Linked DNA regions of Homo sapiens. The protein of the gene in region 3 interacts with the protein of the main gene of each other region in a pairwise test. Each region holds a gene or a part of one and is shown on either strand. Other genes may lie near its edges.

Evidence for each region.
Region 1: the proteins of BATF (region 3) and IRF4 interact in a two-hybrid assay, tested with the Homo sapiens proteins (one large-scale study listed by BioGRID and IntAct).
Region 2: the proteins of BATF (region 3) and PEX1 interact in binary tests that used the Homo sapiens proteins (3 or more experiments, as listed by UniProt).
Region 4: the proteins of BATF (region 3) and ATF2 come close enough for resonance energy transfer, tested with the Homo sapiens proteins (one large-scale study listed by BioGRID and IntAct).
Region 5: the proteins of BATF (region 3) and GLE1 interact in binary tests that used the Homo sapiens proteins (3 or more experiments, as listed by UniProt).
Region 6: the proteins of BATF (region 3) and DBP come close enough for resonance energy transfer, tested with the Homo sapiens proteins (one large-scale study listed by BioGRID and IntAct).
Region 7: the proteins of BATF (region 3) and EPAS1 come close enough for resonance energy transfer, tested with the Homo sapiens proteins (one large-scale study listed by BioGRID).

Annotation. Positions count from the first base shown.
Region 1 is NC_000006.12:404,654-408,974, reverse strand, and holds part of IRF4 (interferon regulatory factor 4), read right to left. Parts: intron 3,958-4,321; coding exon 3,845-3,957; intron 2,210-3,844; exon of another isoform or gene 2,076-2,209; intron 1,521-2,075; coding exon 1,377-1,520; 3' UTR 1-1,376. UniProt on the Homo sapiens protein: Transcriptional activator. Binds to the interferon-stimulated response element (ISRE) of the MHC class I promoter. Binds the immunoglobulin lambda light chain enhancer, together with PU.1.
Region 2 is NC_000007.14:92,493,696-92,498,016, forward strand, and holds part of PEX1 (peroxisomal ATPase PEX1), read right to left. Parts: intron 3,083-4,321; coding exon 3,018-3,082; intron 2,075-3,017; exon of another isoform or gene 935-2,074; coding exon 792-934; exon of another isoform or gene 702-791; coding exon 598-701; exon of another isoform or gene 1-597. UniProt on the Homo sapiens protein: Component of the PEX1-PEX6 AAA ATPase complex, a protein dislocase complex that mediates the ATP-dependent extraction of the PEX5 receptor from peroxisomal membranes, an essential step for PEX5 recycling.
Region 3 is NC_000014.9:75,538,923-75,543,243, reverse strand, and holds part of BATF (basic leucine zipper transcriptional factor ATF-like), read right to left. Parts: intron 1-4,321. UniProt on the Homo sapiens protein: AP-1 family transcription factor that controls the differentiation of lineage-specific cells in the immune system: specifically mediates the differentiation of T-helper 17 cells (Th17), follicular T-helper cells (TfH), CD8(+) dendritic cells and class-switch recombination (CSR) in B-cells.
Region 4 is NC_000002.12:175,115,937-175,120,257, forward strand, and holds part of ATF2 (cyclic AMP-dependent transcription factor ATF-2), read right to left. Parts: intron 2,434-4,321; coding exon 2,315-2,433; intron 2,183-2,314; coding exon 2,054-2,182; intron 1-2,053. UniProt on the Homo sapiens protein: Transcriptional activator which regulates the transcription of various genes, including those involved in anti-apoptosis, cell growth, and DNA damage response.
Region 5 is NC_000009.12:128,520,898-128,525,218, reverse strand, and holds part of GLE1 (mRNA export factor GLE1), read right to left. Parts: intron 2,552-4,321; coding exon 2,403-2,551; intron 1,940-2,402; coding exon 1,879-1,939; intron 1,630-1,878; exon of another isoform or gene 1,628-1,629; coding exon 1,373-1,627; intron 28-1,372; coding exon 1-27. UniProt on the Homo sapiens protein: Required for the export of mRNAs containing poly(A) tails from the nucleus into the cytoplasm. May be involved in the terminal step of the mRNA transport through the nuclear pore complex (NPC).
Region 6 is NC_000019.10:48,631,613-48,634,858, forward strand, and holds part of DBP (D site-binding protein), read right to left. Parts: intron 2,044-3,246; coding exon 1,832-2,043; intron 1-1,831. UniProt on the Homo sapiens protein: This transcriptional activator recognizes and binds to the sequence 5'-RTTAYGTAAY-3' found in the promoter of genes such as albumin, CYP2A4 and CYP2A5. It is not essential for circadian rhythm generation, but modulates important clock output genes.
Region 7 is NC_000002.12:46,380,902-46,385,222, reverse strand, and holds part of EPAS1 (endothelial PAS domain-containing protein 1), read right to left. Parts: intron 3,628-4,321; coding exon 3,501-3,627; intron 3,249-3,500; coding exon 3,134-3,248; intron 2,799-3,133; coding exon 2,625-2,798; intron 715-2,624; coding exon 563-714; 3' UTR 1-562.

The DNA.
Region 1 (4,321 bases), on a different chromosome or scaffold from region 3:
TGATAGGTATACTTAAGCAAGTGGAGGTCTTTGGGATTCTATAAATAGAAGCATTTGGAAAAAGCCAAGTAATTTTAAGGCCCTGTCAAACTATAATTGGCACGAGGAAGCATAGAACAGATGAAATAAGCAGAAACAGCCCACTGAGTGTGCAGTTCCGTAGTCAGCTCCATCCTGCTTCCAGTGGTGGGTCCTGGCAGTGCTCTCCAGCCTGGGAGTCCCCGGCTCCTCCTCCTTTAGTGTCGCCATGGCTGATCGCTGGACAGCCAAACAAACAGAGGAGCGTGGCACAGAGGAAGGGAACAGATAGTTAAGTACTTGGACAGAAGGGCAACAGTTCAAGTATTAAGATTTATGTTCCTTAATTTCTTCTTCTTTATGCGAAGAATTTTAGCATCTCTAAAGAATGAGGGTCAAAAAGATGCAGAAACAAGAAAACTTAACCATTACTTAGACATTACTAGATTGTAGGACAGACAAAAATGTCCCATCCAAGAGTAGCGCTCATGTTTTTTGACTCAAGAAAATAGGAAGTTTACTAACTGGCTTCCAGGAAAGGCCAAGGAGAGAAAGCCAATGGGAAGGAGGGCGGGGCAGAGGGACCCACACCAGGAAACCGCTGGCAGGTGGGGGATGGGCCTCCCCAAGGCTACAGGCACGGCTTCAGTCAAAGATTCATTTCCTTCACTCAGCAAGTGTCTTCCACAAGAACTGCAGCTCCTACATACATTAATACATTTCTTTTACGTGTGAGGCTTCTTCAATTTACATCTTACTTCCCTGAGAAATGGCACAGACATACCTACAAGCAGTCATCACTCTAGTCAGTGTCAATACTGAAAGGCAAGTTTTCTCTGTCTTCCAGCAAGACCTAATCTACAACAAATTAAAGAGCGCATTTCAGTAAATGTAAACACATCACTTGGTCAATTTTCACAGTGATCATCAATGATGGCAGTCTACAGAACACAAGAAATGCAAAGCCACCCTTCCTTTTGAAATAAGCTCATCTGCCAATCAGATGTCACTGATTTTCCATGCTTGTCTCGCCGCAATTCTCCTCAACCGCTGAACTGAAATCTCCACTTCTGAATTCCTCAAAACAGTAAGAGGGCAGTCAATTGGACGCTTTCACTAAAGTCAAATATTTACAATGAAAATCACTTGTCTTGGGTGGGTGCAGTGGCTCACACCTGTAATCCCAGCTACCAGGGAGGCTGAGGCAGGAGAGTCTCTTGAACCCAGGAGGCGGAGGTCACAGTGAGCTGAGATTGTGTCACTGCACTCCAGCCTGGGAGACAGAGCAAGACCCCGTATCCCCGTATCAAAAAAAAAAAAAAAAAAAGGAAAAAGAAAACCACTCATCTTGACATTTTTCATTCTTGAATAGAGGAATGGCGGATAGATCTGTGGTAATCTTCTGGATTGCTGATGTGTTCTGGTAAATCGTAGCCCCTCAGGAAATGTCCACTGTTTTGTTGAGCAAAATAATATAGTTGTCTGGCTAGCAGAGGTTCTACCTTTAATAAGAGATTTTAAAAAGACATTACTGAGATATCCTGCAACTGGCTCACTATTAAACAGCACTCAGATTCTAAGGAGACAGTAACGTAAAGCCCAAAGTTACATCCTAGAACACATCAAAACATTTCATATTTGGAGCCATCTAAAGAAGCAATTTTTTGGTTAGTCCTTCCATAGATCAACATGTAAAAAAACAGCCAAAGTGACTTAATTCTGGGTTAAAGATGTTACTTTCAAATCGACTGCCACTTAAAATGTACATTTAACTAAAACTGCATCAAATCAAGTAAAGTGATCAAATTAAAAGGAAGTCTGAGGGAATCTGCAGGGTAATTTAGGCCAATGATTTTGTTTTTCCACAACTGCAGTTTGAAAGAAACAAGGAGCTCATCCTGAATGATTTGATTTCTAGGTAATCTGTATAGTTCTCAACCAGAGGTAAAAGAAATAAAAAGTAAAGTTAAACAACAACAAAACTACTATTGTGGAAAAAGAGAAGCTAACTGGCCTCAAATTTATACTGTCTGGTTATTAGCGTGGATCACACTCACCAAAAAACAAAAACGCCTTAATGTTCAGCTTTTCCTGAATTTACAGCATCTAAGGCAAGCTGAATGCTCTCCATCAATCATGATATTAGAGACTGTATTTTATATATGACGACTTAAGCTAAACTCCTAAGTACCTGAAATGAATTAAATTAATAATTTTTAAAAGTGGAACTCATAGGTGTACACGTGTGTTTATTCATTTTATGGACCACGCAGCCTCGTCTTCAGCATGAGGGGGTCATCTGGGGATCCATCTTTCCCTGACTTAGAGGACAGTGACTTGCATCCATGTCAACTTTAAAACTGGATTGATGTGATAGCTGAGCTGATCATCAACTTCTTTTTTTGTTTTTTTTTTGAGACAGAGTCTCACTCTGTCACCCAGGCTGGAGTGCAGTGGTGCAATCTCGGCTCACTGCAAGCTCTGACTCCTGGGTTCAAGTGACTCCCTTGCTTCAGCCTCCCGAGTAGCTGGGATTACAGGTGCGCACCACCACGCCCGGCTAATTTTTGTATTTTTAGTAGAGAGGGGGTTTCACCATGTTGGTCAGGCTGGTCTCGAACTCCTGACCACATGATCTGCCCGCCTCAGCCTCCCAAAGTGCCGGGATTACAGGCGTGAGCCACTGTGCCCGGCCGATCATCAACTTCTTAAATGCTGCTTATCAATGCCAAGTTTATTTAGTCATTTAGCAATTCCTGTTGTTAACAATGTATCAGTTATTATTTCAACAATCATATCAATTATTAAGTCAATCACTGGAGAGAACTCATGAGAAAACTCCTGAGTCTATGGGATTATATACTGGTTGGTTGGCTGGTCTTTGTTTTTAAAATCAAGAAGGGGGGTTGTATGTTCAAGATTAAACCATGTTTCATTTCAGTTCTCAATGAGAAATAGCATCAGAGCTAGAACATGATGAGAACTTTGATGTTAGGGGGTGTAACTTTTACCTGGTATTGCTCAGCATGCAAGCCCGTTAATAATGCTTGCAAGTATGTAGCAATGTGAAGTTTTCAAATTCAAAAGTCTTAAGGGTTCAAGATTCTGTTTCCCATGGCAAATTAATGCTTCATGTTATCTATGGAAACCTTTTCTCATAAAAAAGAAAACTCTAACCCTAATCCTAACCCTACCCTTTTAGTGTTACTTGCCACAGTTGAACCCATCTTGAGCTATGCTAGAGAACATTACGAGAGGGTCTGATTTGCTTGAATTCCTTGAAAGATTCAGCCTCTTTCAAATATCATATGCCCAATAATTAAATAATTTCTAAAATTCCAGAAATAAAAGAGGTGCTAGGACACAGCTGCAGAGACCTACAAAATGCCTCCAGGGAATGGATAGTTTCTCATTTGGGAAAAGCTTTTCCATTGAATGAAGATCCACTAGCTAGATAGCATTCTTACAGCAATCTTAACCTGGAGAATTTTAAAGGGCAACTTTAACCATCAATCTTTTTCAATCCCTATAAAATGGAAATACGACAACTTTCCTGAAAAATAAAAAAGATGGGGAAAGAGGCACCCTCCTTTGAGGCTGTCCTCCCTGGTTCTTTGATGAGCAGATCTCAAGTCTGGGAGGAGCACGTGAGTCCTCAGACTGTGCTGCTCGTTGGACCATGCTTCCTCCCTCACTAGTTTAAGGGTTACGCTTATTTTTCCAGGTCATTTGACATTTACTTTTCATTTGGGACTTTTCTAAATGAAACTCTGGCCTTTACAAAGAACAGGAAGCCACTATGGTAGGAGTGTAACTGAGGACTCACGTGAGCTGTGATGAGCTTTCTTTGCCTCTGAGGGTCTGGAAACTCCTCTCCAAAGCATAGAGTCACCTGGAATCTTGGCAGGGAGCGGCCGTGGTGAGCAAACGCTTGCAGCTCTGTAGAAGCCCACAAGAAAGAGACCATGTTCAGAAACCCTCATCACCGAACACACCAGGTTAAACAGGAAGCAAGAGCTTACTGTGATTCTGAACACTGCAAGAGGAATGAGCACTCTTACTCCGCTGAGTGGGGCTCTTGATGTGAACATCTCAGATACAAAATAGCATGTATGCATTCCTTTGGGTGCTTTCCCCCCAGGGCCCTCGGTCTCCCTCGATTCTTCAAGAGGAACTAGTCGACAGCTAAAGAACACTGCTTTGCAGCATTGGACCCACGAAGATTCAAAAGGTAGTAGACCACAGTGAAGTCGGGAGATAAAGAACAAGAAACGTAGTCACGCAATGGCAAAAGACCAATTTA
Region 2 (4,321 bases), on a different chromosome or scaffold from region 3:
CAGTGCTTATTTTCTAGATTTAGGCAAGTGTGCCAAGAAGGTATTTCAAAAGGAAAATCTAAATAATTTAAATAATAGCTACATGTAACATATATACAGATACTTTATACCTTTGACTATTCATTTGTCTATCTGTTCTTTCATTCATTTATTTGTTTGCTTCTAAATTGGAGAATAAGAGTTGGAACAACACAGGACAAGGAAGAGTTGAAAAATTATCTCTATGAAACCTGCTTACATGCTTACGATTCACATGCTTGATTCTGTATCAGAGTTTTTTTTTTGACAGGATAATGGAAGTATGTAATCTTTGAACAGAAGATAATGTGAAAATATAATACATTAGGTTTCTTGCATTTTTTTTTCCCCAATCAGCCAACACAGAAGGATTACAAAGTTTTCAGACTTGCACTGGGCCAAAAAAAGGCTTTGCATCTAATTCAGAATCTTTTTATGCTTTGAGCAAACAGTGGCTAAAGCTTTTCCCTAAGAAAGCTGGTCTTCTAAGGACAATTGCCATTACCTGGCAGAAGTAAAGCTCACAAGGAAAGAGTGTAGCATTTGTTGGGTTTTGGACTCTAAATATGAAATTGTCACCTGATCAGGAGGAGGACAGTATACACATTTATCTAGTCGACCAGGCCTAAGCAGGGCAGGGTCAATCAAGTCAGGGCGACTAGTAGCAGCCAATACATAAACACCTAGAGGAAAAAAGAACATTTTTTTACCAAAATCTGATGACATGATGACATTTTGTTATAACATTCTATTTCTGTATTTATAATTATTACCCTGTAAGCCTTCTACTCCATCCAACTGAGTCAGCAACTGGTTAACTACTCGGTCTGTAACTCCTGTATTATCATGACCCCGCCGAGGAGCAATGGATTCAAATTCATCAAAGAAAAGAATGCAGGGCTTTGCAGCCTGTGCTCTGGGAAAAACAAACAACATTTCATATTTGAATCAGGCTTCATAGTTGGCAAAGTGATTTCATATACATATATGAATGTATTTATTTTATGTATTTATATATATTTATATACTTCTTTTAATTTTTACAACAAACCCTTAAAGAAGGCAAGTTGTATGTAATTACATATAAATACATATAAATGTATTTATATATATTTATGTATTTATTTTAATCTTTACAACAAACCCTTAAAGAAGGCAAGGCATATGAAATTACCCTTGTATTCAGTAAACTGTTGAGGTCAAGGTGTTTATTAAGACCCATGCCTTCTGGATAGACTAACAGGGATCAAAACAAAAACTGACTCTTAGTCAATAAGTCAAACACTTTTGATTCCTATTACAAGTAACCATTTTTATATTAATATATACTTATTGGCCACCCTTCCTTCTTTTGTGAAATGCCTATTCATTTATTTTGCCCATTCAAAATTTGGAAAGCTCATTATGTTGGTACTGTTTTGTAAGGGCTCTCTATAAAATATATTTTATTTCTTTTACTTTTTTAATAATTTGAACTTTGACTTTGTTTTATTAATTTATTAACAAATTTTAATTCAAAATAAGTGAATATTAATTCCATATCTGGCAACAGGTGGACTAGATGTCTGGCGAATAACACCTAATATAAAACACCTGTCACGGTGATTGAAAAAAATCAACAGCTATCTCATTAAATGCATGGCAAGTAAAATATATCTTCTGGGGCCAAAAATAGACCAGAATTATCTGCTACTTGAATGTTTGGCAAAACTCTCCTAGAAAACTGAGTCTGATGTTTGATTTGTGTAAAGACTTCTTTAACTTTTCTAACTCAATTTTTACTAAGTTACAGGACTACTCAGATTTTGTTTCTTTTTTGCTCAATTTTGGTCAATTTTGTTTTTGTCTATGTCACCTAAGTTTTCAAATGTATTGGCATGAATATTTTCATAATATTCCCTTATTATCTTTTACATTTCTGGGATATCTTTAGCGATGTTTCCCTTTTTATCCCTAAAATTGTTTATTCATGCTTTCTTTTTTCTTAATCAAACTTGTTAGAGATTTGTCAATTGTACTCGGTGTTCAAAAAATAAATCTTGGCTTTGTGAGCTTCTCTGTTTTGTGTTTCATTAAACTTCATTCTTATCTTTATTATTTCCCTTTTAACATATTTTTTAGTTTATATCTATAATTTTCCTAATTTCATGAGATAGATACATAAGTGGTTAACTTCTAACCTTTTTTCTTTTCTAAACATTTAACACTATAAATTTTCCTTGAAATCAGTTTTGCAACATCTAACAATTTTAATGGATAGTATTTTCATTATCGTTTGCTCCCAAATATTTTCCACTATAACTTCTCTTTAACCCAGGAATTACGTGGAAGAGGTTTATTTTGTTTATGCTTTTTCCTGGTAAACTCGGTGGTGAATACATGAAGTATTCATTTTATTATTCTTCCTTAAGCTGCATATGTATTTTATGTATATTCTCTTAACTGTATACTTTATAATAAAATTTTTGGAAGAATAAAACAGTAACTTTTATTTTAAAACTCCCCATAATGCTATCACATTTGAATAATTATTTTCATCCTTAAATACCATCTTCTGTATTCATATACAGTTTTTTAATATATGCAAAATAGTTACACTCACTGAAATTAAATTGGCCAGATGGACTCTTGACTTATAAGAGATAAATTAGAAACTGGGGGAAAAAAGAATTTAGAACTTACAAAATTTAGAGATAAATTAGGGGCAATTATTTGCTTCATATAAGAATCTACTCTGAGATTTCTTTGAATAACCACTTCGATTCCACTTTGAGGAGTATTTCTATTGTAAAACAAAACCAAATAATTTCCAAAATTTAATATCTAAAATGTTTTGTATTATTTGATGAAATAGAGAATCCACGTCCTCTAGCTTATTAATAATTCACATAAACCACAGGTTTCAAATATCAGTTCTTCAAAAAACAAGACCAAAAAAAGCACTGATTGATAAATAATAACAGAGTCAGTTACTTTAAAAACATTCATAGGCTACCAACCTAATAAAAATATCCCGAACAGCTTGTTCACTTGCTCCAATGTATTTGCTGAGTAACTCTGGCCCCTATTGGGTAAAATAAGAGTTGAGATAAAATTATTTAAAAAGAAAATATAAATTTGGTTTCTGACTAAGTCTAAATGAATCATGGAAATCTTTAATATGATTAAATGGATGTCTTTTATACATTTTTAAAATTAATGTGTGCTAGAATAAATATCATACCACAAGTTCTATGCTTGATGCTTCTGCCCAGAACATTTTCCCCCGGATATTCTCATGGCTTGTTGCTTCATTTTATTTAGATCTCTGCCCAAATACCACCTCTTCAGAAACCCTTTCCTGACAAGTCCATCTATGACTCACTCCAGTTACTCCAAGCCTCCTTACCCTGCTTTTCTTCCTACATAGGACTTACCACCACCATCTGACAGTGAATTATATACTGAATGTGTCTATCTGCTTGTTGTCGCTTTCCACTAGTAGAATGTAAACTCCAAAAAGGCAGTTTTGTTCACTGCTGAATCCCTTGTGCCAGAAACAGTGTCTGCCACATAAGTATTGGATAATAGTTTTTCCAAGTGAATAAGTGAATGGTGTAAGAAGGGACAAAGTCCCATCTATCTCAAATTTTAAAAAATGTGTAGAGATATGACTTTAATCAGCATCTTCAATTACTGAAACAATGTATTTTCATAGGAGTTAAAGAATATATCATTTTTAGAACATGTGGGAAAAGGCCAAAAAAAAAAAAAGAGAATATATAATCTTCCCTAAAAGCCAACTGAAAAACCTTTCGAAATAAATTTCCCTGCATATAGCAAAATCAATAATGAGAATAGTCTTTCCTTAAATTGGGATCTTAAAAAAAACCTGAATAGGTCCTAAAGTCATCTCTAGTGAAAAATCACTATCTCCAGAAGACCAACTACTGATCAGGATATGTGACCAAAATAAGGAATTTCTAATATTCAACCACATAAATATCTATTAACATAATAATATTTAATTACATTTCCTCAATACAGTCAGAGAACTATAGGACTAGAGGAGGGAACAAGAAATAACTAAGGCAAGACCGGGCACGGTGGTTCTCGCCTGTAATCCCAGCACTTTGGGAGGCCGAAGCTGGTGGATCATGAGGTCAGGAGGTCGAGGCCAGCCTGGCCAACATGGTAAAATCCCGTCTCTACTAAAAATACAAAAATTCACCGGGTGCGGTGGCAGGCGCCTGTAATCCCAGCTACTCGGGAGGCTGAGGCAGGAATCACTTGAACCCAGGAGGCAGAGGTTGCAGTGAGCCGA
Region 3 (4,321 bases):
CCTTCTGCAAGGTGTGGCCGGCTCATTCATTTTACCATTTGGGTATTTCCTGGCACATCCCAGAAGGAGGGCATCCCCTCTTTACCGAAAGGTAAGATCAAGCAACACGATGAGACTAGGGGGTGTTGGTAAGACGGGAACTGGGGGCCGGGAGTCCTGGCTCCTTCCTCTAGCCCTTTTCTTCGCCCCCTCTGAGAGTTTCCACTGGTGACAACATTTACTGTAAATTCTGTGCTCTGAAGAGCCTGGGCAAACCCCGAGGCAGAAGGGAGGGCCACTCTGACCTTCTCCCCGCCTAGAGGCTGGCCCAGCTTTCGGGAAGTGACAGCGGGTCCTTCCTCCCTAAGCAAGCTCTGCTGAGCTCACTCTAGCTCTGTCGTCTGCCTCCCCCTCCCTGGCTTGCAGATCCCAGAGCTCTAGGCAAAGTTTGTAACCGCTGCCTGCTGCCTCTAACCAGAAAACCACCGCCAGTGATAAGAAACTTGTCTTTACCTTGGGAAGCAAGAGTGCTTCCTGCTAGGGCCCCCAAGAAACCTGCCCTGCCAGCCCAGGGACCGTGCAGCCAGCCTGACACTTATGAGAGAAAGGGTTTGACTTCCCTTGCAGGAGGAAGTGGCTGATCTGGGGCCTCGTCCCTCCATGTCCCTGCTATTGCCCAGTCCCCTCTGGCCCTCCTTGGGGCAGTCATGCCCTGGAAAGGGCTCGCCCAGCTGAAGGGACAACTGGCAAAGGTGGCATGAGAGCAGCTGTTTATCCAGAGGTACAACAGTGACATCCCCTAACAATGAGGGCTGGACACCTAGAGCACAGTGAGGCTGGGAGGAAATGCAGCTTCTCCCATATGCATGTCTTCTGCTACTGAGAGGGGTGGGGGTGAGCCTGCATTTGGGCATCCATGTACCCATCTTTCTCCTATTCAGAATTCATCCAGGTCCATCAGACTCCTCACAATAACGCTCTGTGTGGGATAGGGAAGGTCAGCTGTTATTATCCCCACTCTACAGATGAGGACAACTGAGACCCTGGGACAAACCTATGCCACATACCCTCCAAAATGACCACAGGCTGGTGACAGCTGTGCTATAGGATTCACCTCAAGGCACTTGTTTTCTCAGAAGTTCAGAAACTTTGAGTGTTTGATGCAAAGACTCATTGCCCGCGAGGGAGGCGCAGAGCAGGGCTTGGCTCGGGGCCCTGTGTTCCTTCTCTCACACTGACTGCTTCCCCCGAGAGACTGGAGACTTGAGTGGGCAAAGGTCTCCCGAGAACACTAGAAAGTTGGCCAGGTGCTGTGGCTCACGCCTGTAATCCCAGCACTTTGGGAGGCTGAGGTGGGCAGATCACTTGAGGTCAGGAATTCAAGACCAGCCTGGCCAGCATGGTGAAGCCCTGTCTCTACAAAAAATACAAAAATTAGCCGGGCGTGGTGGCGCATGCCTGTAGTCCCAGCAACTCCGGAGGCTGAGGCAGGAGAATCACTTGAACCTGGGAGGCAGAAGTTGCAGTGAGCCAAGATTTTACCATTGTAGTTCAGCCTGGGCAACCCAGCAAGACTCTGTCTCAAAAAACAAAACAAAACAAAACAAAAAAATAAGTCCTTGGCTACCCTGTTGTCTCCCAGGAGAAAGCTGGGTCTCGGTTTTGGTGACCCACACACAACACAACACAACACAAGATCCCTGAGTCACTCACATTCTTCCAATCATAGAGCTGACCATCTGCCTCCTGGGCTGCATGGAGAGGGGGTCACCTGGCCAGATATTCTGGACAAGGGCTGACTCGAGGCCAGACCTTCCTCCAGACACAGAGCCAGGTCCTGAACTCATGACCACGGTGAGCTCCATCAGCGGTAAATGGGAATAGGAACTTGGGCCCTGGTCCTGGCTGGGTGATCCTCAGTGACTCGATTTCCCTATTCAGCTCCAGTTGCCTCACTTTAAAATGGAAAGACTGGACCAAAACAATGATTCTCAACCTCATCCACACACTGGGGTCCCCTGGGGAGCTTTAGCAATCCTGATGCCTGATTCTGATCTAATAGGTCTAAGGTGTAACCTGGCTCAATTTATACGAAAAAGGTGGATAGAAACCAAAATTTTTTTAAAAAAATAGCCTAGGTTAACTTAACTATCATTTATTTGTTTATTTAATTTTTGAGACAGAGTCTCTCTCTGTTGCCCAGACTGGGAGTGCAGTGGTGCAATCTCAGCTCACCGCAACCTCTGCCTCCCTGGTTCAAGCAATTCTCCCCACCTCAGCCTTCTGGGTAGCTGGGGTTACAGGTGCCCGCCAATACACTTGGCTAACTTTTTGTATTTCTAGTAGAGACGGGGTTTCACCATGTTGGCCAGGCTGGTTTTGAACTTCTGACCGCAAGTGATCCGCCTGCCTCAGCCTCCCAAAGTTCTGGGATTTCAGGCGTGAATCATCCATGCCTGGCCAATAACTAACATTTATTGAATACTTCCGTGTGCCAATCACTCTTTTAAGTATTTTATGGTTATCATTACATTTGATATTTTCAACAAACTTGTGTGGTAGAAAATATTATCTCCGTTTTACAGAAGAGGAAAAACAGAGGAACAGAGAAGTTAAGTCACTGGCTCAAGATCACGCAGCTTGGAAGTTGCAGCACCGGTACTTGAATTGAGGCACTCTGGCTTCAGAGTCTGTGCCCTCCATCCTTTCTTGCCTTTAAAGTCTGTTTAAACGTTATACTGTTTGACAGTTCTCTCCTATGAGATAATTCCTCAGCCCCGGTGGCTTTCCAATTTTATCTTCCCTCTTTTCCCACCTCAGGCAAATCCCTCACCTGTGGGGTCATTTGATGCCACCTACCTCTACCATGAACCGCAAGCAGCTTGGGGGTGGCTAAGGAAGAGGCTTCCTGGGGGCGTGGGAACATTCTGGGAAATCCCCTACTGGAGGGGCTTAGGAGGGGGTCACTCACAGAGCGCTTCAACGATGGGGAATCCCCAGGCAGTTCCCTCACCCGCCGGGAGCCATTAGGGACGAAGACCAAGGACAAGGCTGGCATTTCCTAGCTGGGCCCTGGTGGGGACTGTCCAGGCACCCTGAGCAGGGCTGAGGCTTCCTCCCTACCAGCTCCAGTTTAGTGTCTTGGCCTTCTCCTTGCATTTTCTAATCACAATTTCCAGAAGGGTGAAAATAGTCCCTGTGTATTTTCTCCTCAACAGGACATGTAATCATGTATTGGCAGGGTGACCTTTTGGCTCCCACCTACACTTAAGTGGCGTTCGAAGCTTATCCCTCACACCCAGATATATGTTCAGGCTCCATCAGTTACCAGCCCCTGTACGTCACATGCAGAGGGTGGAGCCCGCCATTCCTGGAGCAGGCTTCCAACTGAAAAGTACGACTCTTCCCAAGCAGCGGGAGGATCTAGGCCCACATCTCCCACCATTCCTGGGGAAATTCACCCCAACTGCTGCCTCTCACCTTATGAAAGGAGAAGAAGAATCACCAAACCACAGATCTTTGCGCTGAATAATGCACGTGTGTGATTCTGGAGGAACCTTCACTTTCATGTCTTAGAGCTGAAGCTCTAGGGCCATAAGCACCTTTGCATTTACAGAAGATTGGCCACATCAGCCGTGCCCTCAGGGACCTGTCTAGTCACAGGGTGAAAAGGCTATCGCCTGGTCCTTGGTTTTCAAGACTATGATTTCATTGCCCTCAAATGTGAAAAAAACTATAGTTTGGTTCATTCAGCGTCCATCCCAAACCCCTTCTGCCTTGCCTTCCTCTAGAAAGACTGGGAAAAGAATTGCTAAAAAAAAAAAAAAAAAAAAAAAAAAATTCCAGCTTACCTTACCTTGTAGCTAGGGGTAGCCATGTGACAGAATTCTGACCAAAGATACGTAAGCAGAAGTACCTGATGGGCGGGAGGGAGGTGAAGGCAGAGCTTCCCTTCCTACCAAAAAGGCACAGCCTGCTCATAAGGACAAAGGCTTCCTTCCTTCAACATAGACTGATGCCGAGAGGCTCGGCACCCATCTCACAGCCTAGAGAATGAAAGCCTCATACTGAGGATGGCTGCTTAGAGAGAAGGAGCTTGGTTCTTCCTTGCTGTAGCCTGGTCTCTCCACTTTTGAACTTCTTGTTACATGAGAAAAGTAGGCCATGATTTGTTGATTCCTCATTTGATGGCTGGTCTCTCACTTGTCTCTGAATGCATGCAATCTTGGCTGATACTGATGCTTCGAGTTACAAAGGTTACCACTAGCAAGATTATCAATGTTCAAAACCAAACAACAAAACAAATAATAACTGCCATCAAAGCAAGGGTTTGAATAGTTTG
Region 4 (4,321 bases), on a different chromosome or scaffold from region 3:
GAGGAGAGCATTTCATTGTAGGGAGAAGGAAGCAATACCATATATGTCATGTCCTGAGGTAGGAAAAAGCTTTGAATATTTGATGAACACAATAGAGAGGCATGAGGTAAGGATAGATGCGTAGACAGGCCCAGATCAAAGAGGGCTTATGCCAAGGAGTGTGAATTATTTTAAATACAATGGTAGACCATTGAAAGATTTTAAGCAGGTGACATATTTAATGTATTAAAAGTCATCTTACAGAAAATGGATTGGAGGTAGAAGCAGGAAGACAAGTTAGAAGGTAACTGTTAATAATCCAAACAAAAGATGATGATGGTTTGGGCTTACGTGGTGTCACTGAACACAGACATAGAGGATGAGATTCAGGTCTGATAAAATATGCTGTTAGTTTCAGTGTAAAAGAAAGAAGAAATTAAGGATGACCCCTAAATTCTCAGCTAGAACAACTAAATGGATGGAGAAAATTTACTGAGATGGGGAAAACTGGGGGAAGAATCAAGGACTCTGATTTTGACCTATTAAGTTTAAGATGTCTATTAGACATAGAAAAGGTAATGTCAAGATGGAGTTGGATATAAATCTGGCAATCTGGTGAGATACCTATGCCCATAGAAATTTGGGAGTCATCAGTATGTAGATGTTTATTAAAGTTATGGGCCTGGATGAGATCACCTAGGAAGAAAATCAAGAAAGAAGAAGAGGTCCAGATTTTTTTTTTTTTAAATCAATTTCATATGGTATACCTTGCTCAAGGAGGGCCTAATGATTGGGGAATGCAGAAAGAAGGAATACTCCTAAAAGATGCTGAAGCAGCCACGAACAATGAAAAACTGTTAAGTGTGAAAAGAATGAAATGCTCTCTAGGAAAAAAGATTTGTATCAGAGATTTAAAAAGCATTTCCAATAACTGTAATAATGTGGAAACAACCTTTATGTCCAAAAAGAACAGGATAACATAATACATATACATATCATATAATAAAATAAAGTACAATCATTAAAAAGTATGATTTGGGGAACTCTCTAATGACATGGGAAAATATTCATCAATACTGAGGGTCTAAAGCACAATATAAAATAAAGCTAGGATCTTTATATCCATCTATCCTTCTATTTAACTATTCACTTATGTATTTGTACCTATAAATGTATATATCTAGAAAAAAATGTTTCAAGATAGTAATTCTTATTCAATTATGTGCTAATAGGTGATTTTGGTTTTCTTTTCATGTTTCTGTATTCTTAGAGAAGAAGAATGAGAATGTACTTTTAAAATGAGAAAAAGAAAATGAAGAAAAAAAAACAGAAAACAAAGCATTTATTCTTAGCCAAAAAGTTATTTTTTCTGTATTTCCTTATTTCTAGCTCCTCTGCCATGACAGAAGTCCATTAATAAGTATGGTTTTAGAATAACAATCTAAAAAAGAATATTGCCACTGCCTCTTTATGTGTCCCATTGCCCTTCGCTGTGTCCTGCATGGTACTCCCAAATAAATATGTGCTTATTCTATGTGCTTGTGAACAAAAGAGTGATCAAGAAGTTCCCATAATAATGTTACTCAACACACAACTGTAGCCCAGGTGGTCCCAGATTATCTGGGTATTCAAGCTAGTATCATCATCGTCCTAATTGCCGCTAACAAAGATCCACTGCTGAGAATGAGTAACTAGTCCCTTAATCCTGTAAAAGTCTAAAAAACCACTGTTCAAATAATTTTTTGAATAGATTCTTAATTAAGCTGTTACTGTATAAAAGTAGCTAAATATAAAATAGCAAAACACAGAAAAATTAAGTTAAATTTATAAATTTATATATCTTTTAAAAATAAGTTTTATGTAACATGACTGTTCTCCCCTATAATTTTTCTATGTACAATAAAAGCTGCAGTCTTCTTACCCTGAAATATCTGAGTATTGACAGGCTTTCACATATAAAACTATTGCAAGCTGACACTGAATTTAATACATTAACATTTTATGGAGATTAAATAGTAAACTTTATTTGGGTACTGTTCCTCCCCCTTACTTTGTATTTCTAAAAATTTCTAACCTTCTCATCACTGGTAGTAGACTCTGGGTGAGGTAAAGGACTATCCTGGTGAGTTGTTTCTACAACAGAAGGCTCCTCAATTTTGCTTCTTATGATAGGTGTTGCAAGAGGGGATAAATCTAGAGGCATCTATAATTCAAATAATAAGGAAAAGGTTATAAGTTCAAAAACAGTGTGTCTAAATTTAAAAAGCAGGAAGTATAAACTATGATTACTTTTCTGTCAGAAGTACTCTTTTTAAATTTCATGGTTACAACATACTTTTTTAATGTCATCTTCTGAAGCTTTCTTGAATTCATTCTCAAATGGACTCGCCAACTCATTAAACAAACCCACTTCTTCACAGTTTTTCAAGAATCTTGTTGGTGTTGGGGTCTGATCTGAAATAAATGTCAAGAAGTAATCATGCATATTTAAATATGTTAAGACTCTAAAATATAGCTACTAAGTTAACAAATTAGCAGGACTGGTTCAGTCAGTTGTTAATTCTCTCTTTGGAAAGACCTCTTCCTTTAAAACAAACAAAATTTGGTTAAATTTTTGTTGTACTTCGTATTTCCTCCAACTTTAAGAACTATGAAATATGAAAGTAGGAAAGAAGTCCTTTTTGCTCCTTAGTCCACTGCTTCTTTCTGAGTAGAATGGCATAAACATCCTCTACTCAAGAGATAAACTATTATTATCTAACACAGTATAAAGAATTTTTTAAATTTACATTATTAAAAACTACAATTATTTAAATAAATGAAATTTGGGGAAAACTAGGATAAGAGCATGTATATCTGCTTTAACTTGGTTCTTCCACTAGCTGTTCATACTCTATTATGAAAGCAAACTAAGATAAAACAATCTTTAATAGGTAGATAAAAATATTGTAAGAAAGAAAAAAAAAGTTAAAACAGCCCTAAAACAACAAACCCTCTTTTTACCACTATCTACTGAAACTAATTTTCTAATTTAATGCATTTTACAAGCTAGGTACAAGGAATATGTGTGAGTCACATGCCTCCAGAATGTTCTAGCTTAATTCCTAAGGAGTAAAGAAAGAGTCTACTCTATTTTCTTACAACATGAAACATTTCAACTTTACTCGAATATGTACTCCTACTATGTACATTAACATAGGTACTCAGTGTCCATGTATAGGCTACAAAAAATGCCAGGTAAGATTTACACTGAATGAAAAGCAAGAAACTTATAAATTCTGCCTATTTAGTGTTACTATTTTCAAGGGTGTCTATTCATATTGATTAGAGTTGGTAGCACATTCAAATTCTATTCACATTTAATATATTTTAGAGCACCAATTTTACAGGCTATAGCAGGGATCTAGCCTAAGTGAAGTAAAAGTACTCTACTAAGGAAGACTCTTGGTTTAAGAGAAAATACTCCTAATTCCTTTTGTAAGATTAAAATTTACATATTTGTTAACCATTATGTCCCCACAGAGGGCATTACTTCCTATTTTACCTTTGCCCCCCACATGTATACCTAGAGGACTAGTATTTTTACTATGTACAAATATATTTCACACTAAAATGACCCACTTGTAATACAAAACTAGACATAATGCAGGCCTGTTTCAGGCACTGTTAGTAATATCAGAATTACTAAAAGGACTCTATTATATCATAATTTTACTAGTTTCTAGCCTATCCCTTAATTCCCACCTCCCAAAAGATCTCAAAAATCACATTACAGTAAGTAAAGTACATGTATTAGCTTAAGTCCATCATGACTAAATTAGTAGGTCAAATCTAAATGTGACTCTTCTGTTCACACCCAAAGGGTTTGTCTATCTAAGTTCATCAGAAGGCTCTTAACTTACATTAAAGGGAGGGGAAAATCTTAAAAAAATAAAATACATAAGCATAAGTCACTTTTATCAATGATTACTGGAACCATCAGACTTCAGAAAAGTCAACATAGGCACAATCATTTAACATGCACATTGCATATGGCTACTGATCACCAAAAATATACCACACACATCATGCATTTTATTTGCATAGTAATGTTAACCTATTCATCTCAACATGTTAGTGAAAAAAAAGGTCAAGTACTGTGTTTGAATGTGCTCTATTTTTCTACTGCATTAAATGTGATCAGACAGGAAAGTAATTTCTAGAAACCAATTTCAAAACATATTTGAGTTAAAGAGTTACACACAGACAGAGATTGTGCTAAGGCAGAAAGTTTCAGAGAAACAAAGAGCTTCATGCCTAGGAGAGTGAACTTTCGAGGTTGTTACTATTTTGCTTGTTTGGT
Region 5 (4,321 bases), on a different chromosome or scaffold from region 3:
TTGACTCTCTGCTGTGGGATAGCTGCTCTGTCAGAGTGACGGAGATGGTGCTTAGTGGTCATTCCCTAGGTAAATCATACCTCATACAAGTCAATAAATTTCCTGCAATTGGAATTGTTGCACCAATGGAGTATCCACATTCAACGAATTGATACTTCTTTCCCTGTTCTCTTAAAGGTATTAATAATTCCAACTTACTGTCACATCCATAGTTTCTAAGTATAAATTGGTCTGTATTCTCAGCAACAAGGGCCAGCGTAATTTTTTAAAAAGTTTGTGACAATATGTTAGACAAAAATAATACTGTTTTATTATAATAATAATTATTTTTTGAGACAGAATCTCCATTGCCCAGGTTGGAGTGCAGTGGCAAGATCTCGGTCATTGCAACCTTTGCCTCCCAGGTTCAAGTGCTGCTCGTGCCTCAGCTTCCCAAGTAGCTGGGATTACAGGTGTGCGTCACCACACCCAGCTAATTTTTGTATTTTTAGTAGAGACTGGGTTTCACCATGTTGGCTGAAACCTACTGGTCTCGAACTCCTAGCCTCAAGTAATCCGAGAATCGCTTGAACCTGGAAGCCGGAGGTTGAAGTGAGCCATGATCACACCACTGCACTCCAGCCGGGGCAAGAGTGTGAGACCCTGTCTCAAAAAAAAAAAAAAAAAAAAAAAAAAAAAGCAAAGCAAAGAAACAGGGCAGGTACAATGGCTCGTGCCTGTAACCCCAATACTTCGGGAGGCTAAGGTGGGAGGATCACTTCAGCCCAGGAGTTCAAGACCAGCCTGGGAAACATAGTGAGATCTCTATTGCTAATTTAAAAACAAAACGAAACAAAAAAAGTTTGGCACCGTGGCTCACACCTGTAATCTCAGCAGTTTGGGAGGCCGAAGTAGGGGGATCACTTCAGCCCAGGAGTTAGAGACCAGCCTGAGCAACATGGCAAAACCCTGTCTCTACAAAAAAATACAAAAATTAGCAGGGCATGGTGGTATGCGCCTGTAGTCCCAGCTACTCAGGAGACTGAGGTGGGAGGATCACTTGAGCCCGGGAGGCAGAGGTTGCATGAGCTGAGACTGTGTTACTGCACTCCAGCCTGGGTGACAAAGGGGAACCCCATCACAAAAAAAAAAAAAAAAAAAAAAAAAGACTCCAGAATAAGCAGGTATAAAAATAAAGAAATAAATAAAAGAAACAAAATAAAATGTTAACAGTGGTTACTTCTAGGTAAAGAGATATGGAGATAACAAGTAATGTTTGGTATTTCCCCCAATAAGCAGATAGCAGGTATTACTTTTTAAGTCAGAAAACAGTTTTGCTTTTAAAGGCTTCCATTTCAAAGACAGCAAAGAGTCACTCTGAAGCCCCCCTCACCTCTGAAGAGGCCCGGATGATCCCTGAGATGAGGCTGCACAGCTGGTTGCCTCGGGTCTGGAAGGCAGCCAGGTCGACCTTAAGCAGGGCTTTGTGCTGCTCAGAGGCATCCAGCTGCTGGCTGAGCTGCAGCATCTCCTCCTGCAGAGCATAGAGGGCCCGCAGGCGGATCTGGCCTTCTTCCTTCCGAAGCCGCTCCTGTTCTGCTTGCTTCACGCGCTGCTGCTCTGCTTCCCGCAGCTTCAGGTTGAGAATCTGTAGAAAAGGGCTGAGTGACTTCTCTCTGAGGGGTTCCTGGGCTTCTTCTTTCTACAGTCCTCAAATTCTACGTGGGCTACATATTTTCACAGATGGGCTCAGAGCAGGAAGAGGACATCCCAAGGTTAGTCATACACAGGCATAATACGGCCCAGATCCTCCATGGTGGCCATCTGCCAAAACCTGGCTCTCCAGGCAGGTTACAGACAGACACCAAAACACCCACACCAATTCTGCCAGGCTCTGACCTTTGCTCTGTGACGGTGCTCAGCTTTTAGCTTCTCTTGGTGTCCCAAGGCTTCTCTGGAGCTGCATGAAAAATGGCAGGGAGGAATAGTCAGGGATACTTCCTGAAATTGTTTTTCTTTCTTTCTTTTCTCTCCCTCTCCCTGCCCTCCCTTCCCTTCCTTCCCTTTTTCTTAGAGATGGGGTCTCGTTATGTTGCCCAGGCTGCAGAGCATAGCTCACCACAGCCTCAAACTCCTGGACTCAAGCAATCCTCCTGCCTCAGCCTCTCTAGTAATTGAGACTACAGCTGTGTTCCACCACGCCCGTAAAATTGTTTTACCTCTCCTAAAAGCCTCCCTCTTTGTGTTCCTTTGGTTGTCTCTCCAAGTTTGGTCTTTTTTCCAGGTTATAAAATTCTCTGCCTATTTTACCTTGATATTTAAGGACTCAGAAGTTGTTCAACTCTTTCCCTTTGGAATTCCTCTTGGGAAAGAGTTCCAGTTGAACACATCAACATTCCCAGTCATAATTCAGGGAGACTCACCTCTTCTCCATTACTTCCCGCAAGTCCTGGAATTCTTTATGCTGCTTCAGTTCCTTCCATTCATCAAACCGCTTCAGTTGTTCAGATGCCATCTCCGAGAGGGCTTGCACCTTCCTCTCCTGCTCCTCCTGCCATAGCCTCAGGCCCTCCTGAAAAGGTTTTTTTTTTTTTTTTTTTTTTTAAGATGGAATCTCTCTCTGTCGCCAGGCTGGAGTGCAGCTCACTGCAACCTCCAACTCCCGGGTTCAAGCGATTCTTGTCTCAGCTCCCCAAGTAGCTGGGACTACAGGTGCCTGCCACCATGCCCAGCTAATTTTTGTATTTTTAGTAGAGACGGTTTCACCATGTTGGCCAGGATGGTCTTGATCTCTTGACCTTGTGATCCGCCTGCCTTGGCCTCCCTAAGTGCTCGGATTACAGGCGTGAGCCACCTCGCCCGGCCGAAAATGTTTAACACCTGCTCTCTGGAGCGCCTTCAACACCTTGATCATTTACCCCTGCGGGCTACCTGCCCATCGGCCCCTAACACCATCAGAGATACTTAAGGGCATGGAATCAGAACCTTTGCAGGAATATCCTTTCTCCTTTTGCTTGATCTTTAAGCTCAGCTGTTTTGGAAAGCTCTTCCAATTGCCCCATATGGTTTATGTCACTCCAGTACAAGTTGGGAACGGACAGGAATTTAGCAACATGACATCAAACAGCCATGCACTATTAAGCTTCCATCCTGTGTAGTCTTATGGGGTTCATTGGTAATTTACGGAAATCCTCATTCTAATTCCATAAACAAGCTATACACATTCCTATCTCACTGATTTTGTTAATCTCTGCCTCGAAGATTTTCTCCTGGACCTCCACTAAGGAAAGTCCTTTTCCTTAGTACCTAAGGGTATCAGATATTGAATTTATCATTTCATGAGAGTACTCACATATGGTTAAAGGCAATTTGACATTTTAACTATCAAAATTTGAAGTGTCTATATCCTTTGACACTTGTTCCATTTCAGGAATTTATCCTGAGGAAATGCTTGTATGTGTGTGCAAAGATATATGTACAAGAATGCTCACTGGAGCCCTGTTGATAACAGCAATACATTTAAAACCACTTAACTGGGGAATGACGACACGTATTATAGTACAGTCATACTGCAGAATACTATGCAGCCCTTAAAGATGACGAGATGCCAGCTAGCATGGAGATATGTCAAAATCTACTGTTAAGACATTATGTTATTTTATTTTAAAACATAATTATATTTTATTTTGTTTATTTGTTTATTTTTGAGACAGGGTCTCACCCTGTCATGTAGGCTAGAGTGCAGTGGCACACTTATAGCTCACGGCAGCCTTGAACTCCTGAGCTCAAGGGATCATCCCAACTCAGCCACCTGAGTAGCTGGGACTAAAGGTGTCCACTATCACACGGGGCTAATTTTTAAATTTTTTATAGAGTCAGGGTCTCACTATATTGCCCAGGATGGTCTAGAGCTCCCGATCTCAAGCTATCCTCCCACTTTGGCCTCCCAAACTGCTGGGATTATAGGCATAAGCCAACTGTACCCAGTCTTAAAACTTATTTTAAAGCTTCCAGCGAAAGAAGGCAAACTAAACAAGCATATATGTCCTCTCCTCTGGGACTCTGTTAAAGTGAGAATTGGAAAGAAAAAAAAGACATAACACCACATAGAGCATGAGAGATGTCACCAGCAGGGAAAAATCTTCTACATACTTCTGGAAAACAGTCAGTGGAGAAATAGCCAGGTGCACTGGCTGAGATCTGTAATCCCAGCACTTGAGGAGGCCAAAGTGGGAGGATCACTTGAGCCCAGGAGTTCGAGACCAGCCTGGGCAACAGAGAGACCCCCGTCTCTACCAAAAATTTAAAAATTATCTGGCTGTGGTGGTGCACACCTGCAGTC
Region 6 (3,246 bases), on a different chromosome or scaffold from region 3:
CCTTGAACTGAGGCCAGAGAATAGCCTCCTCCCCAGTAGGACCTGACTGAGAGAAGAGCTGTCTCTTAGGAAAGGGGACTATCCTGAGACCTCCCCAGAGGATTATACCTAAAGTCCTCCCATCCTGGAAGTTGGTTCCTAAGGAAGACTCCTCCTTAGTAACCAAGGACCACGGGGCTCAGAAAGATGCTCTCTACTCCACTATTTAATTAAAGCCCAGTTCCTGCTTGTGAGGGTAAATCCAGTCCCTAGCAACAGGGCCCTCTAGAAGGAGAAACCACTGGTGTAGATCTGACTTCCAGGCCAGTCCTAGGTGCTTCAAGTAGCTATGTGTTACGCAAGGGTATGGCAAAGTCTTGTTTGTTTTTGAGATGGAGTCTCGCTCTGTCGTTCAGGCTGGAATGCAGTGGCATGATCTCGGCTCATTGCAACCTCCACCTCCCAGGTTCAAGCGATTCTCCTGCCTCAGCCTCCCAAGTAGCTGGGATTATAGGTGCCCGCTACCATGTCCGGCTAATTTTTGTTCTTTTTTTTTTTTTTTGAGATGGAGTTCTCACTCTGTCGCCCAGGCTGGAGTGCAGTGGCGCGATCTCGGCTCACTGCAACCTCCGTCTCCTGGGTTCAAGCGATTTTCCTACATTAGCCTCCCAAGTAGCTGGGACTACAGATGAGTGCCACCATGCCCAGCTAATTTTTGTATTTTTTTGTAGAGACGGGGTTTCACCATGTTGGCCAGGATGGTCTCCTGATCTCGTGATCTGTCCGCCTCGGCCTCCCAAAGTGCTGTGATTACAGGTGTGAGACACCACACCCGGAACATTTTTGTACTTTTAGTAGAGGCGAGGTTTCACCATGTTGGCCAGGCTGGTCTCAAACTCCTGACCTCAAGTGATCCGCCCACCTCAGCCTCCTAAAGTGCTAGGATTACAGGCGTGAGCCAACGCGCCTGGCCCGGAATGACAAAGTCTTGTAACAGAAGCCCAAGCAACTCTTGCTAGGGAAGACTCCAGTAATGGCAAAAAACAAAATCATGCAAAGATGCAATGACTGCTCAAATCACCCCAAATCAGAAAGTGGCACTGGCTGCTAACAGAAGCCTGAAGTCTCCCACCAGTGAGAAGTCCAGGCCCAGGAAACAAGGCCTAAAGGGGCTGGCACAGTCTTCATCCTAGCCAAATGCAATCACTCCAAAGGAAGTCCCACATCAGAGATCAAAGGCCTGCTGAGTAAGGAGAGACAGGCCACAGGCTGATATCCCATTGCCAAAGGAAGACTGTCCTTTGCAAGTGTGCCTGGTGGAGCTCTGGACCCAAGTAATAGGAGAAGCTCCAAGTCTCTACAAGTAGACCTAGCAGAGCTGGCTGAGTCAGCACCCCACAGTGACACTGTCTTTTGTTTTAAGACAAGGTCTCCCTCTGTTGCCCAGGCTGGAGTGCAGTGGTGTAATCTTGGCTCACTGCAGCCTCAATCTCCCAGGCACAAGCAGTCCTCCCACCTCAGCCTCCCAAGTGGCTTGTAGAAATGGGGTTTTGCCATGTTGCCCAGGCTGGTCTTGAACTCCCGAGCTCAAGAGATCCTCCTGCCTCAGCCCCCTAAAATGCTGGGATTACACGAGTGAGGCCCCTCGCCCAGTTGACACTGTCTTTATAAACCTCAGGCCCCTGCCCCCTTGTGCCCCGTGGCCAAGGAGGACTAATCTGTGGCTGCAGGCCAGGAGAGGCTGAGCACTAATCCCAAGGAGAAGCCCAGGCTTGACTGTGAGAAAAGGCCCCTCCCTGGCTGTGGGGCATGTCTCCAGCCAAGTCTATCTCCCACATCCAGCTCTGCTCACCTTCTGCTCCTCCGGCACCTGGATTTTTCTTGCCTTCTTCATGATTGGCTGGGGCTTAAGTTCCTCTTCTGAGAAGCGATGTCTTCGAGGGTCAAAGGTCTCGTGGCCAGGAATGCTTGATAGGGCAAGATCAGCTGGGTCGGGTTCAAAGGTCATCAACACCTCCACGGTGTCTGGGTCCACAGGGCTGGGTGTGTCCCGAGAGGTCAGGCCTTGGGGAAACAGCACGTGTCAGCTGAGTGTGTATTTTAAGGAGGGGGTTTCCTGAAGCTACTTTTTGCTGTGGTATCATAGCCACATGGAAAGTCCTTCTGGGATCTAGCATAAATTCGGCCAGGGATTAATCTCCCTAATATAAAATATGAAGGTTCCCTTGGCCAGGCGCAGTGGCTCACGCCTGTAACCCCAGCAGTTTGGGAAGCCGAGGCGGCGAATCACCTTTAGTCAGGAGTTCAAGACCAGCATGGCCAACATGGAGAAACCTCATCTTTACTAAAAGTACGAAAATTGCCCAGGTGTAGTGGCGGGTGCCGGTAAGCCCAGCTACTAGGGAGGCTGAGGCTGGAGAATTGCTTGAACCCGGACCCTGGAGGTGGAGGTTGCAGTGAGCTGAGATCATACCACTGCACTCCAGCCCGGACAACAGAGCGAGACTCCGTCTCCAAAATAACGAGAAAAATGAAGGTTCCCCTAAGCCATAAAGATGCTTAGAGATCATGGAGCCATATCCACCTTTACAAACAAGGAAACTGAGTCCCAGTCATAACTGACTTGCCCTAGGTAACACACGAATCAGGGCTATTGCTTCTACACTTGATCTTAGCCAAAAGGCCGAGAAGCGATGGGGCTATTGCTTCTAAAACCTCAGGACTTCAGATGCACAGTCTAGCCTGAATCCTACTTACCGAATCCACGACCTAAGCTTAGACCCCAGACTGTCCAGAGAAAAAGAATCTACTGCACTGAAAAGCTCTCAAGTTAGAGTCTAAGAGCTACTCGCTGGAAAGAGGAGGAGAAGCTGCTCTAAGGTTCCAGAAGATTGGTTCGAAAGGAGGCGCCTGTACCTTTAAGCACCAGCCAGCCGGGGCCAGCTAAGGACACAGGTTCAGGGCCGAGTCACGTGCTGACGCCTGCTTCCCTCCTCCTCCCTTCCTCCCAGGCCCCCGCCATCGGCGCCCTCACGTTCCCCCGGCCCCGCCCCCCTCGCGCTTGAAGGCGCCTGCGCGAAGCGCGGAGGAGGGATGGGAGGACTCACGTGGCGCAGGAATGTGCCGCTGGGAAGGGTAGGGCCCTGGTTCGGCCCGGAGGTCGGACCTGGAGCAGGTGTGCCCAGGAATCCCCGACCTGCAGTCCGTCCCTGGAGACCTCAATGTGCCCAAAGGGAAACATCTTTCCTCTTGCTCTTCCAGTCACTT
Region 7 (4,321 bases), on a different chromosome or scaffold from region 3:
AGAGCAAAGAGTCAGCTTAAACAAAAAAAAAAAAACCCTGAAATTTACAATATGGTGATTAGTTTAAAAAAGAAACGAGAAGGGCTCTGCGAGGGAGACGCCACAAACCAAGCTTGGAAAGCAAAATCATTTTTGTTTCTCTTTGGCAACAACAATAACGAGGAATCTTTTTAGTAAAATGAAGCTAAAGCTTCTCCCTACAGAAGAACAGACATGCACCAAACTTGTTAGTATGGACAGTTGTGTGTGAGAAGGAGAAGGAGGGAGAGAAACCTATGGATAATATAAATTAGAAGTCATTGAAGGTGGGGAGGAAAAAAATCCTACAAAATTTAAGAACATTTCAGAACAGGTAAAACAATTGTGTACTTTAAAAATAGGGATAATAAAGTGAGCATCTCAGAAAAAGGCCACTGCTTGGTGACCTGGGCAAGTCTGCCAGGTAAGTCCATCTTGTAAATAGTGTGCTGGCGTTAGAAATACCTAGTTGCAAAAACAGACGGAGAGAGTGAAGCTGGTGGGACGGCGTCGGCAGAGGTGCTGCCCAGGTAGAAGGCCTGGCTCAGGTGGCCTGGTCCAGGGCTCTGAGGAGGTCCCCTCCTTGCAGGAGCGTGGAGCTTCCCAGCACGGGCACGTTCACCTCACAGTCATATCTGGTCAGTTCGGGCAGCAGGTAGGACTCAAATGAGGGCCCGAGCAGCCGGCTTGCCATGCCTGAAAGAAGGGTTGGTACCATAACTTAAAGGCCTAAATCGAACATTTGGAAAAGTGTCTACTTCTTTGTGACTGGGGGATACCAATAGAGCAGCCCTAATTTCACTCTGCTCCTTCAGTGGTGTCTGTCCCACGGCCTGCTGCATGCCCGGGGAACGTGTCTGCCTCCAGAACCACTGCCTCAGGTGGGGTGCTGAGACCCAAGAAAGAGGAAAGCGTGAGGTGCGGGCTGCAGCACAGGTATGTGGAAGCTTCAGGAAGAGCCTGGGGTTGCTGACCCCCATGCCTCCTGGCAGCAGGGAGGAAAGGCTGAACCACCTGGCACCTATGCTCACATACACAGAACATGCAGAACACACACATACATACAGATGCAAACACAGACTGCCTCAAGATTCAACAGTCTGAAAATCCAGTTTCTGGTCACCACCCTCAGCAGTCCTTTCTTCTTGCCTCTGTGCTATTCTCTTGCCGAGGAGGCAGACCAGGGAGTGGCAGGGGGGACACTCGCAGCACACACACAGGCCCCCATCCCAAGGAGGAAAGGCTTAGGTGGCAGCAGAGAGCCTGGAAGCCCTGCATTCTGCCCCTCCGATGGGAGATGCCCACCCACCTTCCCTTATCTGCAGAGCCTCGTTCCAGTGGCCATTGCCTCCTGCACCTCCTAGCTCAGATCCTTGCTGGGGTCCATGCCTGCCTCCCCAGCTTGACTGCTCCTGTGGACAGTATCAATGGATACCTGCTCACCATCCCTTGCTAACTTCTCTTATTCATGGTCAGAAAAGAGTTTGATATGATTCAACTCTTTTGAAAAGAATATGATTTTCCCTTGATTTCAATATTCAAGGTAATTCGTGGGCTTCACATAACAGGAAGAATAGTGCTGGCTACCTCTTACTGCACATAAATATATACCAGCCCCTGAACTCAACAGCAGAGCCAGAATTTAAGCCAGGGCTGTCTGGTGTTTCTACAGCCTGGACTCTGAAGCACAGAACTATAACCTTCCCCAAACTCTATTGCTGAGGAAATTGCCTTTTAGAACAGGGGCCTGGTATGTTTTTCCATAAACCACGAATTATTTTCAGGCCAAACAAACCTCATGAAGACATATATGTTTCACAAGATACTGTCAAGATGAAGGTGGCCCAGGGTTGAAGGCAGGCATTGGTGCCTGCAGTTGAACCAAGTCCAGTGGGGTGGGCCTACCAGAGCTTTCCAGGCTGTTCTACCTGAAGGAAGTTTTGGCATGTTCTCAGCACCTGCCTGAACTCAGAGTGACACCCCAAAACACATCCACATGAAGAACTGAGGAAGGGGCAAGGCTCCGGGATTCTCAGGGTGGAAAGAGCCCTGGATGGCACCTGATCATGGGAGGGTTCTCCCTAAAGCCCCAGGGAAGGAGCACTCCCTTCTCCACGCAGCAAGCTCATCCTTGCATAGACGGGAGATCCCCTGCCTCTGCCCAGACCGCTTCCCAACTCTCTCTCTCTGAACTTTCTCTTCTCTTCTTCAACAGGCCCTCACCACTGTGGCCGCCTGCTCTTTCTTCTGAAAGTGCTCCTGTCAACAGTGGTACAGTGTTCTGGGGGTCGCCAACCCAGTGTTCAGTGTTCAGTCCTCTTTGGGCAGTCGGTAGTGGTCTGCATTCTTTCCTTCAGTATTCTAGCCTGAGTTTGAGTTTTTTAGCTGTGTCTCAGACCCACCCACTGGGGGGCCTGATCACTGATGTCACAAGGAACTTGTGAGGAGGTTCCCTAAATCCAAGGAGACCTGAGCCCTGTATAGGTGACTTCAAGTCAAGCACCTCCCTGTGCCTGGCACTGTGCAGACGCTGGAAAAAAAGTAGACGTGGGCTTCCCCTGGCATCGAATCCTGGGATGGGGGTGACAGATCCTGGGCACACCCACCTGACACCTTGTGGGCTGACGACAGGCTGTAGTCCTGGTACTGGGTGGCGTAGCACTGTGGGGGGAACCTGCTCTTGCTGTTCTCCCCGGGACTGATGGCAGATGGAGGCTGTGGCAGCGGCAGATGTCTCAGGGGATGGCCCAGGCCCCTCATGGGGTTTTGGGTGAACTTATCTGAAAGACCAAAGTCAGAGAGTGACGGTAGCATTGGCCTGAGGGAGGGGAGAGGCCAGGAAGCCCTAGCATCCCTTTCCTTTATAAAAGGTGCTCAGAGTCACCAGAACTACAGCCAACCTTCAGGACCCTCTGATGGCATCATCTAAGTCAGAGTGGAGATGGAAAAGTTGGGTGTGTGGGACTGCGGGAGAGACAGAGGACATCGCCCCATTCTAACAAGGCTCAGAGAGGCAGGTACGGCCTGTGGTGAATGGAAGAACCAGGATGGGCTCCCGAGCCCCAGTCCTTCCACCAGAACCCCCAGGAGGCCCAGGCCTGTGGCCGCTGCTCACCATTGGGTACATTTGCGCTCAGTGGCTTGTCCGGCATCAAAGGGCAGCTCCCACCCCTGAGGTTCTTCATCCGTTTCCACATCAAATGTGAGGTGCTGCCACCAGGTGGGTCCCCCTGGGAGTAAGAAGGGCAGATGGAAAGGGGAAATGGCCAGAGAACCAGGTCCCCAGACTGGGTGGGTTGGGTGGGCCTGGAACAGGGCTGGCACTTGCTGGCTTGGAAGGGCCACATCCCCACCCCTCTCAGCAGCCCTGGGTTCCCTAAGGGCTATGCTGGCTTGGAAGGGCCACATCCCCACCCCTCTCAGCAGCCCTGGGTTCCCTAAGGGCTATGGAGAGGCCCCTGTGGCCAGTGGGGATGACTCACCCCGCTCAGGTCCTGGAAGGCTTGCTCTTCATACTCCAGCTGTCGCTTCAGCTTCAGCTTGTTGGAGAGGGCTACCATGGCCGGACTCAGCACGTCTGGGCCTCGAGCCCCAAAACCCTTTGCAGACCTGCCAAGCCCGAGAGAGCAGGCTATGAGGGAGTCTGGAGCCACATGCCACTCAGTGCCTTCTCATCTTAGGGGCCCTTCCAGTCCCAATGCTGATGCCTGTGATGACTCAAAGACCCAAAAGGCAGAGTCTCAGAGGCAGGCTGTGCACCTGCAGGCCGAGCTCGAGCTCTGTCTCCTTCCTCAGCTATAAGATGCTGAAGGGCTCAAGCCTCCTGGTCTGGGGGATGGCTGCCTGGCTGGGCAATGTTAGTCCTTAGGAGGGTTTCTTCTGCCCATGTCTCTCCTCTGCCTTTTGCTCCCACTGAAAACTAGTTTGGCTGCTCTATAAAGGGCAAGTACCAGCGGCCCCTGGGAGTGGCAGGTCATGTACCAACCCCTGTGCCTTAGCCCAGTGAGCTCGCAGCTGGTGAAATGAGCATGCTGGGGAGATGGGAAGGCATTTCTGGAGCCTAGGCACAGCTGGGAGAGGCTGCAGTGGCGAGGACCCGGGGGCAGCCAAAAGGCAAGGGGAGGCAGGGGTATCTTTTTGCTGTTTTCAACCAGGGAAAATCATCACTCAATTTTCTGTGTGGCTCAGATGATGAACCGAGATACGAAAGGCACTCTGGTGGTGGTCCGAAGGGAGACACTGAGGTACAGGGCTCTCAACAAGCCACTTCTTTGCCTGCCCTCAGTGGCAGCCCAGATAAAAA